Homo sapiens: one gene and its partner. The protein of the gene in region 1 purifies or fractionates together with the protein of each later gene. This does not show direct contact. Each region holds a gene or a part of one and is shown in the gene's direction. Other genes may lie near its edges.

Region 1 (2,951 bases):
CATGAGAATCTGCCTTTCTTCCAAGTTTTCAAGTGATGCTAATGTTGTTGGTCCGGAAACCACACTTTGAGAACCACTGCTCAAAATCTTTCCAAAATCTGAATCTTTAGGGTGGAGCCTAAACCCTGAGTTTTAAACAAGCTTTTTGGGTGATTCCAATGCATTTAAAAATTTGAGGCCCCGTGCCTTGGGTTCATGAGGAGTTAATTACCTTTGAATCCTCTCCTGACCTTGGTTAGCTGTAAGCACCTTAGAAGGAAGAGAGTTGCAACCAATTGAGAGCCAGGCCTAAGGATGGGCCAGAGGAGGAAGCATGGGGAAGGGGAGCAAAGGTGTCGTCTGAGCATGACCCTGGGGTTGACAATGATCTGCAGACCCATGCAGGGATAGACGAGGTGGGGAGATGGGGGAGGCCGGTCCAGAGTCTGGGTTCACAGCCTCTGACCACGTTCCCCGCATCTCTCTGCTCTTCCTACCAGTTCAAAGTGTCAAGAACAAGCCTCTCTTCTTTGCCGACAAACTTTACAAATCCATGAAGGTAAGAAAACATGCTGGCGTTCCTTTCCCTTCAAGCACTGACTTACATACACACACAAACACACAGATGTGCACCATCCCCCAGATCAGGATTCCTGGCAGCTGTTTCTTCCCATTTGACATTTATTAGCATCTGCCCTTGTCTGGCTCTAGGATGGTATTTCCCAGTTGGGGGTGATTTCCCCCGCCTTCCCCCGCCCCGGAGGATATTTGGCAATATCCAGACACATTTTTGGTCATCACAACTTGGAGATTGTTGCTACCAGCATCTGGTGGGGACAGAACAGGGATGCTGTTAAACAACCTCAGTGCAAAGGATAAGCTTGCGCAACAAAGAATTATCCAGCCCCAAATGCCAAGGTTGAGAAATGTGCTCTGGAGGCACACAGGGCTGGGTAGGACACAGTCTCTGCCCTCTCAGAGCTCACAATCTATCCGGGGACACAGGGTCTCCTAGGACAAATAGTCATCAAAGGTCACAAGCGCTCCCCTCTGAGTCTAGTCCTGCCCTTCTGGGAGAGCCCAAGCCACACTGGCCACCCTCTCAGCCACTGGAGTCTCAACTGCAGATAGCCTGGGCAGGTGGGAGGGTAGGAAGGAACCTGAGACCCTCACCCTACAGTCTCCAAATGTGACAGCCATTCATTGAGCACTCACGATGTGTCAAGCCTGTGCCAAGGGCTTCATCTCTCTGACCACAGCTGACCCTCATGGCAGTCCTGTGAAATTGTGGTAGCATCCTCATTTGATAGAGGAGGAAACTCAGGCCTAGGTAGGGTAAAACGTTGCCCACATTTACATAGCTCCTAAGAGGCAGAGCTGGGACTCGAACCTAGCTCTGACTCCTAGGCTGGTGCTTGTCGCTCCCTGGGGGCAGAGGCAGCTCTGGCTGCCCACACATTCCATGCCCTGTGCCTGCTCCTTGGGCCCGGTGGTAGTTTCCTAGGGCTGGTGTAACACATTCCAGAAATTGGGTGACAAAAGAAATTTATTCTCATAGTTCTGGAGGCCAAAAGCCCAAAATCAAGGTGTCGCCTGGGTTGGGTCCTCCTGGAGGCTCTGGGGGAGAAGCACTCCCCTGCCTCTCCTAGCTTCTGGTGGTTGCCAGAAGTCCTTGGTGTTTCCTGGCTGTGAATGCATCACTCCGGTCTCTGCCTCTGTCCTCACCTAGCCACTTTTCTGTGTGTATGTCTGTGCCCTCCCTCTTCTAAAGATATTGGTTATTGGTTTAGGCTTCAATCTAATTCAGTATGCCTTCATCTTAACTAATTACATGTGCAAATACCTTATTTCCAAATTACATCATGTTCTGAGTTTCCAGGTGGACATGGGGACACTATTCAACCCACACACATCTTTTTTGCGTGTCAGTCTGGCCAGTCCTGGGCACAGAGGGATTTTGGTCAGGACTGTTTGCAGAAGACAGAGGTGGAACATCCGCCCTGTTTTTGGAAGGAACAAGGGAGAAAGGCAGATGGGATACCACTGTTTCTTGCCTGACTGGGCTCTATCTCTCCTTCCGCCTGTGTCTCCCTCCTGCCTGGCTCCACCAGGGTGCTGGCACAGATGAGAAGACTCTGACCAGGATCATGGTATCCCGCAGTGAGATTGACCTGCTCAACATCCGGAGGGAATTCATTGAGAAATATGACAAGTCTCTCCACCAAGCCATTGAGGTAAGGGGAGGGGCTAGAGGTTAGCAGGAAGCGGGTGAGTGTCAGATCCCTAATATAAGATTAGAAGTCTTTATTCCCATGGACTTTTTTCCAGTGGGTTACCGCTTAGAACAGCCAGGATATTGAAATGAAAGGGGGTCTGTATTGCATTGTTTATACCGAAATCAATTCCAAAAGAATCAAAGGTTTATAATTAAAGATTTCCAAATAAAACAAGAGCCCATTTTTTGCTTTTTTTAAAGCAATGTTATGGAAGTATAACTTACATATCATGGGCAGGCATGGTGGCTCACACCTGTAATCACAGCACGTTGGAAGGCCAAGGCAGGTGGATCACTTGAGGTCAGGAGTTCAAGACCAGCCTGGCCAACATGGTGAAACCCTGTCTCTACTAAAAATACAAAAATTAGCTGGGTGTGTTGGCTCATGCCTGTAATCCCAGCTACTCAGGAGGCTGAGGCAAGAGAATCGCTTGAACCCAGGAGGTAGAGGTTGCAGTGAGCTGAGATCACGCCACTGCACTCCAGCCTGGGCAACAGAGCAAGACTCCATCTCAAAAACAGACAAACAAACAAACGAAAAACTTACATATCATAAAATTCACCTGTTTTAAGGGTACAATTCAACAGTTTTTAGTAAATTTACTGAGTTGTACAACCATTCCCATAATGCAGCTGGTTTCCAAACACTTCTATCATCCCACTAAGCTCTCTCATACCTGTTTATCTAGTTCCATCC
Region 2 (2,381 bases), on another chromosome or scaffold:
AGTTCCTCATCTTCATCTGAGGCCACCTCAGCCTGGACTTTGTTGTCCATATTGCTATCAGCATTTGGGGCAAAGCCATTCAACAAGTCTGTAGGAAGTTCCAAACTTTCCCACATTTTCCTGTTTTCTTCTGAGCCCTCCAAACTGTTCCAGCCTCTGCCTGTTACCCAGTTCCAAAGTCACTTCCACATTTTGGGTATTTCTTCAGCAGGTCCCAATCTACTGGTACCAATTTACTGTATTAGTCCGTTTTCACGCTGCTGATAAAGACATACCCGAGACTGGGAAGAAAAAGTGGTTTAATTGGACTTAAAGTTCCACATGGCTGGGGAGGCCTCAGAATCATGGTGGGAGGCAAAAGACACTTCTTACATTGTGGCAAGAAAAAATGAGGAAGAAGCAAAAGCAGAAACCCCTGATAAACTGATCAGATCTCATGAGACTTATTCACTGTCACGAGAATAGCACGGGAAAGACTGGCCCCCATGATTCAATTACCTCCCCCTGGGTCTGTCCCACAACACGTGGGAATTCTGGGAGATACAATTCAAGTTGAGATTTGTGGGGGGACACAACCAAACCATATCAGCATCCTTTCAAGAATATTAGATAATTGGAGCTGAGTACTCAGGAACTTGACTGTAGTAGAATACTGCTAGTTTCTTAATTTTAATTCACATCACCTGAAAAGTAAAACAACAGGCTTTGCCAAGTGGATGCTTTTCAGTAACAGTGAAGTGGAGTGAATACCAAATGTTTGCCCTGGTGGTTCCTATCTCTTCAGGCAAACATGGTCAGTATTCTGTAAAGTTCCCCTGGCCTAAATGATTACTTGCTCTGGGCAAGTGGATATTTATTAGGCTATTTCAAAGCCACAGCATAAGAATGTCAGCCTAGCCACAGAGTCTGAGATTCTGAGTTCAGCCTAGCCACAGAGTCTAAGATTCTGTATCCTCTGACATTTTGGAAATGATACACTACTGGCTTAAGTGATGACTCTTTCAGATTTTCAGTATTTTATACAACTACTGCCACATCCTTATACTTTATTGCTTTTCTGTCTTCTTCAACCTGGGAGAGACCCTGAATTTGAGTGTGTTCTCTAATCAATAGTGGTTTAGCTTTCTTTTCTATTTCACTCGTTTCTAGGGTTTTTTATTTGCAGTTTAGGAACTATTAGGAATGTCAGGACTTTATCAGCAGGGGTAAAACTACCACCTGGCCTAGCCTAAGTAGGAAGTGAAAAGATAATTCACCAAACAATGATTAATCAGATAGAAGTTCTAGTCAAGAGGGATATTGTTGAAGTTACCTCTTTTAGCCTAGATACATGGATTCTTTTCAAATCAGGAAAGATTAGAAAAGGAACCCAAAAAACCCTTTAACAGTGTGAATCTTTATAGTATTTGAAAATGAGAAGAAGCAGCAGATTGTAATTTGGTTTATTGGATGTGATGGACGTTCTGTAATAGAAAACCTGAAACGATGATTGAATGGGAAAAAGAGACTACAAAATTTGTCGTAGGATGTATACAGACTTATTTTCTTTATTACAGTATTATAAGAAAACATATGTATTTGTAAAAATGGTTTCCTGTGTCAAGTATTTGTGCAGTCAGAGCTGACTTGTAAACTATTCTTGTAATAGCTCATTATTTTGAAAGATTTATATATGATGAATTCTGGATATATGACCAATAAAACTGATGAAGCAAAACCTCGAGCAGTTGATTTTGTTCACATCAGCTTCTCCTGCCACATGCAGGGTGTGTTTACTACAAATGTTCACATGTGCCTGCTCTTATCATAGTTCCTGTGACTATCTTCGGCTATACCCTGCTCCTTTTGCAGGAGTCAATTCTCAGAATTCAAAGTTACTTTCCCCTTTTAGGCATTTTTTCTTCTGAATGAAATCACTTTTGGATCTTCATTCTCTGGTCAAATTTAAATTATGACACCATTCTCTAGGAGACTGCATAGCGTTTTCCCCTGGTCTGGCGACTGTTTTTTAATTTGATAGCATTATTGAAAACATACCAGACCCAAGCAAAAAAAGTCTCCCCTGGCATTTTGAGAAGACACACTTTTTTCTGCCTTTTAAAAGGAAATTATCATTGCCTCCCTCCGTACCCTCTGAGACCCTCGGACCTTGCACTGACCCTTCTTCATCCAGAACTACCCCTCTGGATGGATCTAGTGAATGGGCTCCCAGTTGTTGGCAGCTGGGAGAGGGAGAGAAGCAGATCCTCAGATAGTGGAATCACCCCATCAAACAGACAAGGCTGGAACACCTTCCTTCTCCACAGCTGGCTGCTGTTAGTAACTATTCCATGCTGGCCTTTGTGGTCCTTGCCTGCCCTTCCTTATAAAAAATTCTCCTG

The links.
Region 2: the proteins of ANXA6 (region 1) and MCFD2 fractionate together in Homo sapiens (co-fractionation; one large-scale study listed by BioGRID). This does not show direct contact.

Annotation. Positions count from the first base shown.
Region 1 is NC_000005.10:151,102,832-151,105,782, reverse strand, and holds part of ANXA6 (annexin A6), read left to right. Parts: intron 1-479; coding exon 480-538; intron 539-2,090; coding exon 2,091-2,213; intron 2,214-2,951. UniProt on the Homo sapiens protein: May associate with CD21. May regulate the release of Ca(2+) from intracellular stores.
Region 2 is NC_000002.12:46,901,210-46,903,590, reverse strand, and holds the end of MCFD2 (multiple coagulation factor deficiency protein 2 isoform A precursor), read left to right. Parts: 3' UTR 1-1,717; downstream 1,718-2,381. UniProt on the Homo sapiens protein: The MCFD2-LMAN1 complex forms a specific cargo receptor for the ER-to-Golgi transport of selected proteins. Plays a role in the secretion of coagulation factors.